Regions from separate parts of the Homo sapiens genome. Here region 1 is linked to region 2. Evidence: fine-mapped expression QTL. A gene starts in region 2. The other region holds a variant in brackets. All regions are shown on one strand. Distances are from middle to middle. Region 1 overlaps NOSTRIN (nitric oxide synthase trafficking). Region 2 holds the start of G6PC2 (glucose-6-phosphatase catalytic subunit 2).

What was found.
Region 1: its variant is fine-mapped to the expression of G6PC2 in minor salivary gland (GTEx, PIP above 0.99). The same link has a PIP of 0.9 or more in breast, lung, stomach and sun-exposed skin.

What each region holds. Positions count from the first base shown.
Region 1 is chr2:168,861,677-168,869,803 of GRCh38, reverse strand. It overlaps NOSTRIN (nitric oxide synthase trafficking), which reads right to left. Exons shown (of 16, transcript NM_001039724.4): 15 at 7,755-7,844; 16 at 4,290-4,970. The coding sequence ends at 4,834. It also overlaps a transcript of SPC25 not described here. Among named protein-coding and RNA genes, the nearest start is that of SPC25, 25 kb to the left of the region's middle. The variant T/C (reference allele first, on the strand shown) is at 4,933.
Region 2 is chr2:168,896,390-168,904,538 of GRCh38, reverse strand. It overlaps G6PC2 (glucose-6-phosphatase catalytic subunit 2), which reads right to left and starts at 3,248. Exons shown (of 5, transcript NM_021176.3): 1 at 2,990-3,248; 2 at 1,985-2,094; 3 at 1-34. The coding sequence starts at 3,207.

The DNA of each region.
Region 1 (8,127 bases), 35 kb after region 2:
ATTGAATCTATAAATTACCTTGGGCAACATGGCCATTTTCATGATATTGATTCTTCCTACCCAGGAGCATGGAATGTTCTTCCATTTCTTTGTGTCCTCTTTTATTTCACTGAGCAGTGGTTGTAGTTCTCCTTGAAGAGGTCCTTCACATCCCTTGTAAGTTGGATTCCTAGGTATTTTATTCTCTTTGAAGCAATTGTGAATGGGAGTTCACTCATGATTTGGCTCTCTGTTTGTCTGTTATTGGTGTATAAAAATGCTTGTGATTTTTGCACATTGATTTTGCATCCTGAGAGTTTGCTGAAGTTGCTTATCAGCTTAAGGAGATTTTGGGCTGAGACGATGGGGTTTTCTAGATATACAATCATGTCATCTGCAAACAGGGACAATTTGAGTTCCTCTTTTCCTAATTGAATGCCCTTTATTTCCTTCTTCTGCCTGATTGCCCTGGCCAGAACTTCCAACACTATGTTGAATAGGAGTGGTAGGAGAGGGCATCCCTGTCTTGTGCCGGTTTTCAAAGGGAATGCTTCCAGTTTTTGTCCATTCCATATGATATTGGCTGTGGGTTTGTCATAGATAGCTCTTATTATTTTGAGATACATCCCATCAATACCTAATTTATTGAGAGTTTTTAGCATGAAGGGTTGTTGAATTTTGTCAAAGGCCTTTTCCGCATCTATTGAGATAATTATGTGGTTTTTGTCTTTGGTTCTGTTTATATGCTGGATTACGTTTATTGATTTTCGTATGTTGAACCAGCCTTGCATCCCAGGGATGAAACCCACTTGATCATGGTGGATAAGCTTTTTGATGTGCTGCTGGATTCAGTTTGCCAGTATTTTATTGAGGATTTTTGCATCAATGTTCATCAAGGATATTGGTCTAAAATTCTCTTTTTTTGTTGTGTCTCTGCCAGGCTTTGGTATCAGGATGATGCTGGCCTCATAGAATGAGTTAGGGAGGATTCCCTCTTTTTCTATTGACTGGAATAGTTTCAGAAGGAATGGTACCAGCTCCTCCTTGTACCTCTGGTAGAATTCAGCTGTGAATCCATCTGGTCCTGGACTTTTTTTGGTTGGTAAGCTATTAATTATTGCCTCAATTTCAGAGCCTGTTATTGGCCTATTCAGAGATTCAACTTCTTCCTTGTTTAGTCTTGGGAGAGTGTATGTGTCGAGGAATTTATCCATTTCTTCTAGATTTTCTAGTTTATTTGCATAGAGGTGTTTGTAGTATTCTCTGATGGTAGTTTGTATTTCTGTGGGATCGGTGGTGATATCCCCTTTATCATTTTTTATTGCGTCTATTTGATTCTTCTCTCTTTTCTTCTTAATTAGTCTTGCTAGCTGTCTATCAATTTTGTTGATCTTTTCAAAAAGCCAGCTCCTGGATTCATTGATTTTTTTGAAGGGTTTTTTGTGTCTCTATTTCCTTCAGTTCTGCTCTGATCTTAGTTATTTCTTGCCTTTTGCTAGCTTTTGAATGTGTTTGCTCTTGCTTTTCTAGTTCTTTGAATTGTGATGTTAGGGTGTCAATTTTGGATCTTTCCTGCTTTCTCTTGTGGGCATTTAGTGCTATAAATTTCCCTCTACACACTGCTTTGAATGTGTCCCAGAGATTCTGGTATGTTGTGTCTTTGTTCTCATTGGTTACAAAGAACATCTTTATTTCTGCCTTCATTTCGTTATGTACCCAGTAGTCATTCAGGAGCAGGTTGTTCAGTTTCCATGTAGTTGAGTGGTTTTGAGTGAGTTTCTTAATCCTGCGTTCTAGTTTGGTTGCACTGTGGTCTGAGAGACAGTTTGTTATAATTTCTGTTCTTTTACATTTGCTGAGGAGTGCTTTACTTCCAAGTATGTGGTCAATTTTGGAATAGGTGTGGTGTGGTGCTGAAAAAAATGTATATTCTGTTGATTTGGGGTGGAGAGTTCTGTAGATGTCTATTAGGTCTGCTTGGTGCAGAGCTGAGTTCAATTCCTGGATATCCTTGTTAACTTTCTGTCTCGTTGATCTGTCTAATGTTGACAGTGGGGTGTTAAAGTCTCCCATTATTATTGTGGACTTGCTTTATGAATCTGGGTGCTCCTGTATTGGGTGCATATATATTTAGGATAGTTAGTTCTTCTTGTTGAATTGATCCCTTTACCATTATGTAATGGCCTTCTTTGTCTCTTTTGATCTTTGTTGTTTTAAAGTCTGTTTTATTCGAGACTAGGATTGCAATCCTTGCCTTTTTTTGTTTTCCATTTGCTTGGTAGATCTTCCTCCATCCCTTTATTTTGAGCCTATGTGTGTTTCTGCATGTGAGATGGGTTTCCTGAATACAGCACACTGATGGGTCTTGACTCTTTATCCAATTTGCCAGTCTGTGCCTTTTAATTGGAGCATTTAGCCCATTTACATTTAAAGTTAATATTGTCATGTGTGAATTTGGTCCTGTCATTATGATGTTAGCTGGTTATTTTGCTCGTTAGTTGATGCAGTTTCTTCCTAGCCTTGATGGCCTTTACATTTTGGCATGTTTTTGCAGTGTATGCCACATTTTCTTAATCTAGTCTATCATTGTTGGACATTTGGGTTGGTTCCAAGTCTTTGCTATTGTGAATAGTGCTGCAATAAACATACATGTGCATGTGTCTTTATAGCAGCATGATTTATAATCCTTTGGGTATATACTCAGTAATGGGATGGCTGGGTCAAATGGTATTTCTAGTTCTAGATCCCTGAGGAATCGCCACACCGACTTCCACAATGGTTGAACTAGTTTACAGTCCCACCAACAGTGTAAAAGTGTTCCTATTTCTCCACATCCTCTCCAGCACCTGGGTTGTTTCCTGACTTTTTAATGATTGCCGTTCTAACTGGTGTGAGATGGTATCTCATTGTGGTTTTGATTTGCATTTCTCTGATGGCCAGTGATGATGAGCATTTTTTCATGTGTTTTTTGGCTGCATAAATGTCTTCTTTTGACAAGTGTCTGTTCATATCCTTCGCCCACTTTTTGATGTGGTTGTTTTTTTCTTGTAAATTTGTTTGAGTTCGTTGTAGATTCTGGATATTAGCCCTTTGTCAGATGGTAGGTGGCAAAAATTTTCTCCCATTCTGTAGGTTGCCTGTTCACTTTGATGGTGGTTTCTTTTGCTGTGCAGAAGCTCTTTAGTTTAATTAGATCCCATTTGTCAATTTTGGCTTTTGTTGCCATTGCTTTTGGTGTTTTAGACATGAAATCCTTGCCCATGCCTATGTCCTGAATGGTATTGCCTAGGTTTTCTTCTAGGGTTTTTATGGTTTTAGGTCTGACATGTAAGTCTTTAATCCATCTTGAATTAATTTTTGTATAAGGTGTAAGGAAGGGATCCAGTTTCAGCTTTCTACATATGGCTAGCCAGTTTTCCCAGCACCATTTATTAAATAGGGAATCCTTTCCCCATTGCTTGTTTTTGTCAGGTTTGTCAAAGATCAGATAGTTGTAGATATGCGGGATTATTTCTGAGGGCTCTGTTCTGTTCCATTGGTCTATATCTATCTCCGTTTTGGTACCAGTACCATGCTGTTTTGGTTACTGTAGCCTTGTAGGATAGTTTGAAGTCAGGTAGCGTGATGCCTCTGGCTTTGTTCTTTTGGCTTAGGATTGACTTGGCAATGTGGGCTCTTTTTTGGTTCCATATGAACTTTAAAGTAGTTTTTTCCAATTTTGTGAAGAAAGTCATTGGTAGCTTGATGGGGATGGCATTGAATCTATAAATTACCTTGGGCAATATGGCCATTTTCACAATGTTGATTCTTCCTACCCATGAGCATGGAATGTTCTTCCATTTCTTTGTGTCCTCTTTTATTTCATTGAGCAGTGGTTTGTAGTTCTCCTTGAAGAGGTCCTTCACATCCCTTGTAAGTTGGATTCCTAGGTATTTTATTCTCTTTGAAGCAATTGTGAATGGGAGTTCACTCATGATTTGGCTCTCTGTTTGTCTGTTATTGGTGTATATAAGAATGCTTGTGATGTTTGCACATTGATTTTGTATCTTGAGACTTTGCTGAAGTTGCTTATCAGCTTAAGGAGATTTTGGGCTGAGACAGTGGGGTTTTCTAGATATACAATCATGTCATCTGCAAACAGGGACAATTTGACTTCCTCTTTTCCTAATTGAATGCCCTTTATTTCCTTCTCCTGCCTGATTGCCCTGGCCAGAACTTCTAACACTATGTTGAATAGGAGTGGTGAGAGGACATTCCTGTCTTGTGCCAGTTTTCAAAGGGAATGCTTCCAGTTTTTGTCCATTCAGTATGATATTGGCTGTGGGTTTGTCAGAGATATCCTACCATCCCCTAATTTGGGTTGATCTCATTGGTGTCTTGATTGCCTGTCTCTCTTCTTGGAATTGATCTGTGTTCCTCATCTCCCAGGCTCTGCTTGACCCCCTCATAGGCCTGCTGTGTTCTGTTGCCACCCAAATCCAGAGGAAAAAGACATCTAAGTCCCACTGCTGTTGTCTACCAGATAACTCTGACTTCAGGCAAGCAGCTGAACCCACCTTGGACTCCGTCTGTTTCTGTGACACCAGGGGTTATACTGGATCATCTCTAGGGTCTCCTAGAATTTGGAAACTCCTCTAGGAACCAAGGAGCCTCTTCCTTGTCTGTCTCCACCCATCCATCTTTTTTCTGACTGTTTCAAGCTAATAATCATGAATGCAAAGTGCTGTGACATGCAGGTAGAACTCCATCCATTTCAAAAGAAAAACATGTAAAGGTAAGAGCACTTTATTCTTATTTGAACCACACTGTATTGTTGATTACCGAGTGTGAAGGTAGTATGTTCAGAGTCTTGTTTTATGCCTTTGTAGCTGTGTTGCCAGCATTTGAAGGTAACTCCTCCACATAAGCGGCAGGAAAATGGCCTTTTTTCCCATTCAAAGATCCAAACCACCA[T/C]CCTCCTTCTTTTTTCTCGTGTATAATCACAATGTCACCTGTGAAAATACAGTTAGACAAATGGGTCTCTGTGATGTGAACACATGCCTCAGCCCGATTGATAAGAGTTTTAAGGAGGTTCTGCTTCAAGGATTTACTTGGTAGTGTCATTTTCTGCACTTGATTCAGATGAAGCCAAATGTATCGAACACCTGTGTATAAAGCAGGCATAATCCAGAGGATACTAAAAAGAGTAAGATAATGAACAACTGAGATATATCATAAAATAATTGCTTAAAGACAGGATTGGCTGGGCGTGGTGGGTGACGCCTGTAATCCCAGCACTTTGGGAGGCCAAGGTGGGTGGATCACAAGGTCAGGAGTTTCGAGACCAGCCTGACCAACATGGTGAAACCCCTTCTCTGCTAAAAATACAAAAATTAGCTGGGTGTGGTGGCGCACGCCTGTAATACCAGCTACTCAGGAGGCTGAGGCAGGAGAATCCTTGAACCCGGGAGGCAGAGGTTGCAGTGAGCTGAGATCATGCCACTGCACTCTAGCCTGGGCAACAGCAACAGGGCAAGACTCTGTCTCAGAAAAAAAAAAACAGGATCACAGCCAGGCACGGTGGCTGACAGCTGTAATCCCAGCACGTTGGGAGGCCGCGATGGGCAGATTAGGCAGATTACTTGAGGTCAAGAGGTTGAGACCAGCCTGGCCAACATGGTGAAACCCCGTCTCTACTAAAAATACAAAAATTAGCCAGGCATGGTGGCACACGCCTGTAGTCCCAGCTATTTGGGAGACTGAGGCAGGAGAATCACTTGAATCCAGGAGACGGAGGTTGCAGTGAGCTTGGGAGACTGAGGCAGGAGAATCACTTGAATCCAGGAGACGGAGGTTGCAGTGAGCTAAGATCACACCACTGTACTGCAGCCTGGGTGACAGAGCAAGACTCTGCCTCAAAAAAAAAAATAAAAAAAGATCACGTTGGATCATATATCCTTATGCTGCCTGGCTCACTTTCTATTTCTATGTAGCTGATGGATTGTCACCAAACTCTTTCTTGGTGTCCGTACTTTGAGGGTTTCACATGCTGGTGTTTTTGATTGTTTGGCGTGTTGGCTGCTATAAGTATGTCTCACCAACAGTCTTTTCTTAAGATCAAGACAATGTCTCTGCATTATCCCTGATTTCACAGGCCAAAAGTTTAACTCACTCACAGCTTTGCACAGAAATGTAACTCCCCATTCAAAATGTAACTCCCCATTCAACAACTTAGACAACTTTAATACAACATCAATTTGGAGACAATATTTTTTAAAGCAATGATTCAAATAAAGAGAATTCCATAGAGAATTGGACAAGAAACATGGCTCTTGTCATAAAAGTAGAAAGATCTGCCCCCTTCAGGATCATCTGCCCCCGTCAGGATCCAAGAGCTACTTTTTATTTGGCATCATTCTGAGGTGATTTTTCAGTCTTCCTTTCACTCTTTTCCTCAGCAACTTTCTTTCTAAGACAAAGGAAATTATTAACTCCTTTTCTATCTTTTCTACATTTTCTTAGTCATAAATCACTATTCTTAAAGGACATTATTCTCGGTCTCTAAGTTCTCCCTCGTCAGTAAATTGACATAATCTATTAACAAGAATTCAAACAAATAATGATTTCAAATTGTATTGCCAGCTTCCCTAAGGCTCCAACGTCGTGTTTCATTTAAAGAAACTGCTTAGAATATAAAGTATAAGTAGGCTTTGCAACCAACAGAGAACTGAAAACAAGATAATCAATTTATTGTGAATGATGTAACTTAAATGCTGCATCCATGGGTTCTAGGTGGCATCTGGGAAGTATGTCTGTCTTTTATTCACATAGGAAGAAAAGTAATTGCCTGGAGAGATATGACTGGCAAATGCTGCAAAGGAAACACCCAATAAATAGCAAATGTGTGGTGTCCCTGTCGTTTGGCTACAAAATGTATCTTGATTTTCCATTGGCTCTGGGAGCCATGTCCTTGTCGTGGATAATATTCTTTCTCCCATAACGTTACTCTTTCTCACTAACCCTTCCGTTTCCAGATCTCTGCATTAGCGCTAACATTCAAACATGGTTTCTAACTGGACACATAAAGAAGGTTGAGGCTGGAGACTTTCTTCTTTAATAATGTTGTGGTTTACATTATAAAGCCACTACGTAATACCTTTCCATGTTAAGTAAAACTCTGTGACACAAAGAAGGGGATCTCACTCTTTAGACTGGCTGTAAAAAGCTTTTCTGAGAAGTAAGTGAGACCAGCACTAAGCTGGGAGTCAGCTGACCTAGGTTCTAGAATTTGCACTTACTTACACTAAGTTGAGAGAGGAGGTCACTTCACATTCCTGAATGTCTAGCTTCTAAAAAATAAAAAGGTGGGGTACATCTCTAATCACTTTCCATCACTGACATTCTACCCTAGTGTGCACTGTGATTAGGAGCATGACTGTGTTTCCAAGTTCAAATCTTGTGTTGCCACAGCCTGTGACATTAGCCAAAGCACCTAACCTTCCTGTGTATCAGTCTCCTCTGCTATGAAATGGGAATACCAATAAAACCCTCCAAGGGTTTCATGAATATTAAATTGGACAATAGGCCTGCAACAATGTCTGACACACAGTAAACAGAATAAGCGTTAGCTATTATCATTATGCGAGCTTTTGTTTTAGATGTGCTTATCTTTCAAGAAGGGTGAACTGATTTGACATGGTAGTAACTCTTAAGGCTGCCACACTAAGACAGGGTTTTATTCATGCTAAGAATCTCAATATGGGAAGGCAATTAAAATATTTGAGAATGATTCTTACCCTTTTCCAAATTCAACTCATCATCTTGCCTGGCTTGAAAAGAATACAAGGCCTTGCAAAGTCTGCTGCTGAGCTGGGCTGCACCAGGGGCTGAAATAGATAAAGCTGTAATTAGTATGCTGTGTTAGCAGGCAAATGAATATGAGCTGAAGCTCTTTGGTTATTTAACAGTGTGATGCAGAGTTTCAATATATTAAATTTTTCTCAAAAGGAAAGTTTGTAATTTTATATAATGTTCATTCCTTGATTCAATAACCACTTATGATGCACTTTCTATATGTATGGACTGCATATGTTATATAACCAAAAACTATATTATAATACATGAAATAGCAAGTCTAGAGAAAAACATCATTGTATAATAATAGTAATT
Region 2 (8,149 bases):
CAGGATGCGCCCATTGCATGGCCAGATGGACTTCCTGCAACAACAAAGTGTCCGTCCATTTGAAAAGTGGTTAACTATCAAGATCAGAAATGAATAATAGAATAGCATATTCCCCATGAAAATTATGAGTAACTCAGAAAAAAAGACAAGACACAGGCTATATGTAATGTTTAGAAGTGGGTAGAAATAAGAAAAATTGAGTTAAATTGAGCCTGAGAAACACTGTCTCAAAAAATTTTTTTCCCAGATTTTCAGGTTCATTGAATTCCAGAAATCAATATACTCAAGGCTAATTAAGAACTCAGGCAGTTGCACCCAAATCTGCCACAGCCCTACTCATTCTTCAATATTTGGTTGTTTTTAATTGACAAGCAAAAGTATTAGGTTAATGCAAGAGTAATTGCGGTTTTTGCCATTGAAAGTAATGGCAAAAACCGCAATTACTTTTGCACCACCCTAATGCTTGTATTGGATCTTCAGTTGGCTTATTTTCCTTGGGCTGAGAAGTCAAACTCTAAAGGATATCATTGCTATGCCAGTGATTTGCTGATTGACTTACAAATGACTGCTGTGTACTAGCAGCTACTTCTATGCCTATCTTGTGGCCACTGCAGTGAGAATCTTTGTTTTAAAACAGAGGATGAGGAGAAGCTATAAAGACGGCATTAATCCTAGCAGAAAAAGCCTTTCTACTTCCAGAATGCCTTTTCCATGCTACTGAATTTTTTATTAGTTTCCTTAAATGTCCTCCTCGATTTTTCACCTGGTAGTTCATTCAAATTAAATACCAGTCTCTTATTTGTTAAACAAAGACAGACCTATTTCTTATCTGCAGGAATTTTCAGAGCCTTTTAAAAACTATGCCTTAAAAAATTGTAAATCTCCCCGAGAGATGCAGTCTTTCTTTCTTTTCTCTCTCTCTCTTTCCAGAAAATGTCTTATAAGGTGGAACACATGCCGGAAAGGACTGGAATTGACCACGATAACATTTCGGTGGTCTCAAATGTTACCCATCCAACCATTCATCCATTTATCACACTTTGGTTTCACAAAGATAAACTATGCATCATCCCTCCCCTGATGGAACACCCAGTCTAGGCAATCGGATATATAAAGAATTAGTTAATATCATTTAGTGTAATAAGCGATATAACAGATGTATGTATACTTCTATGGGAACAAAAAAGACATATTCAGAACACTCATTAAGAATTTACACATTCTCTACTACCCTTTACTCAAAGTTAGTTTCGAAGGATGTCAACTGGCGAGAATGTTATGCTATGTAAAATGATGAGGTACAATATAACACATTCTTATAAATTAAAATGTAATTTTTAAATATATGTTTCAAAAAACTTTTTAAAACAGTCTTAGAATCAACTATCACAATAAAGATTTTATACTCATACAGAATCTTACCTAGAATAAAAAAGAAGTGGCCCAAGAAGCCTACTTGTGTACAGAGAAAAAATATGTTTTAAAGAGATTGTTCTAGGGTTAGAAATAGTCTTTACTGGCTATAGTAACATTGAGAAGTCCTTACCTTTCTTACAGAAGACTTGTCTACTCCTCCCTCATTCGTGAGATACTCGGAAGACCTATAGTAACTTTGAAAGTTGCTTAGCAGCAGATTAACCAACATTTCTAAGATCTTAGTCTAGTTCCTTGAGAATTTGTTCTAGTTAACTGTTTCTTGTTTTAGTATCAAGTCATTATATTCTTCTGAAAAGTAAACACCAAATATTTAATCACTGGGGGAGTTTTCTCCCAATCTACCCTTTCATAAATAACAAAATGGAATTTGAGTATTTTTTTTGCTTTGCTTCCTCATTAGTAATTTTGATTGTTATGAAGTTTTAGCATCCTCACTCATGAGATTTTCTTTACTACCCTATATAATATCAGTTCCTAGATGATAACCCTGTGTAATGATTCTCTATTGGAAGATCTTCAGTAACTGGAGCCTGCTGTAATAGCTTACCTGGACCTGTTTCACATGTAGTAGGGAACTGTTCAAGGCATGGACTTGAGTGATTTGGGTAAATCTGAGTTTCTTGGACCCACCAGTAAGGTCGATGACCAAATAATATCCTGTATTTAAAGAATTATAAACATGCATATATATTTAAATACACAGCTATTATTTAATTGGAGATTAGCAATTCTTTCCTATAAAAAATGACTCAAGCGCAGGGTTAATTGTGAAAGTTCATGATTAAGAGACTTTGAAAAAACTTAGGTCTTGGTCTCTCACACATTATTAAAGGTGGTAGCCATTTGGTATTTTGGCACCCTGGTTTCCCATGAACATGGGGGCTTTTTTCCCTTGCAGGGAATGTCTTATGGGTGCTTTGGATACTTAGACTGGAAATATCAAAATTTGTCCCTAGAATTATCAATTTGTTCATTATCACGCTGCTCATGTAAGTAATTCTTAATCACAGAATATGTGTTACAGGGGTTTGGGAATTACTTATAAGTCATTAAAGTACACATTTCTGGCCTGGCGTGGTGGCTCACACCTGTAATCCCAGCACTTTAGGAAGCCGAAGTCGGTGGATCACCTGAGGTCGGGAGTTAGAGACCAGCCTGACCAACATAGAGAAACCCTGTCTCTACTAAAAATACAAAATTAGCTGGGTGTGGTGGCACATGCCTGTAATCCCAGCTACTCGGGAGGCTGAGGTGAGAGAATTGCTTGAACCTGGGAGGCAGAGGTTGCAGTGAGCCGAGATCACGCCATTGCACTCCATCCTGGGCAACAAGGGCAAAACTCTGTCTCAAAAAAAAAAAAAAAACAAAAACATATATATACATTTCTGTGCCTTTTAAAAGTTCTACTTATGAATCTGGTGTTTCAAGTTACCTGGTATTTTTGAAAGATTTTCCAAGTAAAACGATATACATCTGAAATGTGATCATTATGCCGAAGTCACAAATTTAAGGATAAATCTTAGGAAAAAATGAAATAAAACAGAAATCTTACCATTTAAATATAAGATTTAACCAATCCCCAATGACTGCTACCCATATCATCTTGGTTCCAACTGTCTGATTAAATTGAAAACAAAGTGGAAAATAAATGAAAAAGATATTCCTGGGGTCTCCAACATTGGACATAAAATTTAGAAAAGTGTAGTAAGCTCGGTAGTCCTTCTGCAAATGCTGAATTATGAGCACTCCATTCCTGTGAAGGAAATCCATCTTGAAAAAGAGGCAATTCTAAACATAGAGCAATTGGAGCTGAAGTGCTCTGATTCCCACCGTTTTTATACTGTGCCTTTGTGGCATGTCGAGCCATTACTGCAACATGTGATGCTGACCATCTGTGGAGAGGGCACACCAGCCCTCCTCTGCTGAATAGCTCATCTATTTATGATTTTAATTGGTGGCAAAGAGTGAAGTACATGCTGATCTGTGGCAATTCGAGGGGGAAATTTGGATAGAAACACAATGAATTTCTTATGCAACCTCCCTTTTGTGCGAACAGTTGGATCATGTTTGCTTGAAATTTTTTGTACAGTTCATTTCCTCCAAGGTCAGACATTAGCAATTTCTATGTTTGGTGAAAAGACTTTGCAAATAATTATTGCATGTCAAATAGCCCATAAAGCCCTGCATTTTAATTTAAGATAGGCTGTGGCTCTCTATTTTATTGGGTCTTTGAGGAAAATGGTTGAATAAATATCTGGGTATGAAAAATATATGATATGACAGATTATGTTCTGATCACTGATTTAAAATAAGAATAGTTCAATTTTCTTTATCCAAGAGAATGATAGAATATATATGGAACAGGGAAAGAAATGTGTTGTTTTTTGACTATAAGACAAGAAAGCAGAAATGAAAGTCATTTGGATAATAGAAATGTGTTAGGATCAAATTGTATCTTTTATTAACTAGAGAATACAGTTGAGAGGAATAGGGAATGATTCATGTGACAAAGATAGGAATAGACATCAAAGGGCTTTTGACCAATCAGGAAAATGGTTTGTTGAGAACAGAGTGTTAAACAGAAGTGGAAAGCACCAAACAAATGCTAAGAATGAACAGAAGGGTAGCGCAAAGAGGCTGTGGATCTAAGTCATAGGTCCATAATCTACGGCTGTGGACTATGACTAGACTATAGACCAGGACTCTGGTCCTGGACTATAGACTACGACTGGACCCTGGACTATGGACCAGGGTAGACTGAGAATGAACAGAAGGGTAGCACAAAGAGGCTATGGATCTAAGTCAGAGAGATGTTGGGTTTAGAGAGCTGGATTGTGTCTAGGATTAGTGGGAAAGCAACAAAGCCTCACAAGGTGGCCAGGGATGGATCTAGGTAACCTTACTTGTTATTTTGTCATTCAGATTTTTGTCTTTGCTTACCATGGCCTAAGTAAAGACAAAAGACTTCACTAGAGTCCTTCACAGGCTATAACTATCACTTTGAACTTCTCTTCGAGTTTTGTGTCCCATCATTTAACAGCACCATTGTTACTGGGCTTCAGTGTCTATTGGTACCTTACCTGGAAGAAATGCATTGACTGACCATTAACATCTTTTGGGGTGCTTTTTAAATTGCCATAACTGTGTTCCACCTGAGATCAGTTATATTTCTGGTAATGGAATTTGGGCATTGGTATTATTAAAATACTTCTCAAGTGGTTCCAATGTGGTATAAGGGGCTTAGAATCATTGCACTAAGGCAATTCATATAAGGAATTATCCTTGACTAATTAGAGTCTATGCTTCTGGCTTTTCTTTGTTTTGCATATTCAGGTTCTGTAATTTCCATAATCTCTTTAATGAGCCATGAGGAAGAGCATAACTTCCCTTTATTCTTTTTCTAAAAAGTGTTTGATCTACGTAATTCATAATACTCATTTTCTTCAGAAATGTCTTATCCTTAAATCAGGATGTGAATGATATCAAATACATTTTGTCTTCCACTTAAAAATTAAACTTCCTGCTCTTCAGCACCTCAGAGTCTGTGATTAGCCTTTCATCTATGGTAGTTAATTTAGAAAGATTTTCTCTCGAGAACTACCTGGTTCTGTAGACTGTGGGATAATTAAGTGAAGCAAAAGCATCTTGATTTCTTTCACCCTTTAACAGCATCTGCTAATCTGCTTATTCCTCGTAGTTCATCATTTTTAGTCTTTTCATATCTTAGCTTCTATGCATCCATCGGTGATGCCTTCTCTGACCAGCATCCTCACCACTCCTCTGACAATACTTTCTCTCACACACTCTTTTCTCCTAGGGGGTTGTTTGAGTCTGCTAGGGCTGCTATAACAAAATACCAGACTGGGTGGCTTACACAACAGAAATATAGGAAACTAGGAGTCTGAATCAACGCGTCGGTGGCGTTGATTTCTTCTGAGCCTCTGTCCTTGGCTTGCAGATGACTGTCTACTCTCTATGTCTTCACATGGTCTTCCCCGCTATATGGGTGTGTTCTAATCTCCTCTTTTTATAAGGATACCAGTCTTATTGGATTAAGGAAGATACTAATGACCTCATTTTAACTTAATCACCCCTTTAAAGACCCTATCACCAAACACAGTCATTTTGGGAGGTACTGGGGCTTAGGACTTCAACATGAATTTGAGGGAATACAGTTCAGCCCATAACCGGGAGTTAAACACAATTTATAATTATATATTTATGACAAGTGTATATATTTAGCATCTCTCTCCTGTACTACAGTATAAGCTCCATAAAACAAGGGGTCCTGTCCACTTTGTGCAACAGCCACAAGCACAGTTCCCATAACAGGCCCGTGTAGAAGCCAATTACCCATGAAGCTGGAAAAGTTCGCACGGGCGCCTAAGATGGTAGGTTGGGCCGGGCGCAGTGGCTCACGCCTGTAATCCCAGCACTTTGGGAGGCCGAGGTGGGCGGATCACTTGAGGTCAGGAGTTTAAGACCAGCCTGGCCAACATGGTAAAACACCATCTCTACTAAAAAAAAAATACAAAAATTAGCTGGGCATTGTGGTGGGCTACTGTAGTCCCAGCTACTCGGGAGGCTGAGGCAGGAGAATCGCTTGAAACCCGGGAGGTAGAGGTTGCAGTGAGCCAAGATCGTGCCACTGCACTCCAGCCTGGTCTACAGAGTGAGACTCTGTCAAAAAAAAAAGGCAGGTGGTTACTGATAGTTTAGAGTGCATTCACGAGTTTATTTTCTTTTTATTAAAGAGAGGGCCTATATAACAGGGGCTTTATAGAGGGGCCTATATAAAGCCATTTAACAGGGGCTTTAGATTTCACAAAACCTGGAACTGCCCCTGGGCCCATCATAGTTATTTAGTAAATGTTTATTGAGTGAATGAATTATTGAACAAAGTTGATATGAGTACTAAATTATAAAGAGCCTGTGTTTTAAAACTATGTTATTTGGTTAGTGCAAACTCAAAATGCATTTCTCCACAGAGATCATGTTATATAGTGGCAATGTCAAGAAAGTGTATTTAAGGTGGAGAAAATATATATAATGTGTATTCTAGAAAGGGCTAATATATTTGTATGTGTATATGTGTGTGTGTGTACATACATATATAAATATGTATGCAGATGTGTGTATATGTATATATACATATATTAGCCCTTTGTGTGTGTGTGCATATATGTATATATACAATTATATATACATATATAACATATATACACACACATATATACACATATATGTACACACACACAAACACACACATCTGCTTATGATTAAATAGAAGAATAAACAATTAAAAAATATTTTGGCCAAGCATGGTACCTCACATCTGTAATCCCAGCACTTTGGGAAGCCATAGTGGGAGGATCACTTGAAGCCAGGAGCTTGAGACCACCTGGGAAACGAAGCAATACCCCACCTCTATTTAGTATATATTTATTTTATATACATTTATTACATGTGATAAATTATATAATTTATCACATGTAATAAATTATATAATTTATTGCATGTAATAAATTATATATATTTATCACATGTAATAAATTATATAATTTATTTATATATAAAAATACATAATAAATATATATCTATTTTTATATATTTATATTTATATAAAAATATATATGTAATAAATAAATATTTATTATATGTAATAGATATTTATTATATGTAATAGATATATTTATTATATGTAATAGATATATTTATTATATGTAATAAATTTATATATTTATTATATATAAAATAAATATATTTTTAAATTCTGTAAAGGAAAGAAGAGAAGAGAGTAGAGGGAACAGGGTTAAAAAGTAGACTTCTTTGAACATACTTATTTTATAGATGTGACTTTGAAACCATGTAAATATTTTACATAACTATACAACAAAATTAAAATTAAGATGTGATTCATACAAAATTTTAAAAACGAAAGAAGTGAAAACACCACTTGATCCATTATACTGGTGAGCTATTCTTCCCAGCACTTACATGTATTTTATGATTTGTTCCTGTGGGAAATCTCTTTCTACACATTTCTTTAGTCCTCCTCATCTACCGTCTGCCACTCGAGTTGCCACGGCTTAGGGTGGGGATGTTCCTGTATCCTATGTGGGCCCCAGCAGTAGGGAGATAGAGGAAGTTGGTTCTTTCTGACACTAGTAATCTTCCAGTGGAGCTCTTCCCTCCAATGACACAGCCTGCCTGACAAGCTGGGTCATTTCAAAGCCAAGGTTGTTAGAGTTTAAGATCTGTCCAAAATCAGTTTACCAAATGATGGAACAAAGTCACATTCAACCTACCCAGACCAAGATCCAAAAGAGGGTAGATCCACCTGACTCATCCTCTTTTTGAAGTTGTCTTTCCTAAAGTGTGACCTGTGGACCACCTTCCTCCTGTCACCTGCATGCAATTTCCAGGCCCACTCCAGATCACAGAATGAGACATTTTGGAAATTAAATCCAGAAAGCGTTTTAGTAAGGTTTCCACATGGTTTCTATACACATTAATTTTTAGAAGCGCTGTCTTCATTCATCATTCCCTTGAAAGGTACCCCTCCTGTACCTCCTGTGCAGAGCTGGCCTCTTCTTGTACCACTTTCTCAACTTCTACCTTAAGTCATTTTTTTTTCATTTGCCTTATTTGGGGTTCTGTATTATTCCACTCTTTCCCATGGATGCAGGCGTGGTCTGTTTCCATATTCTTC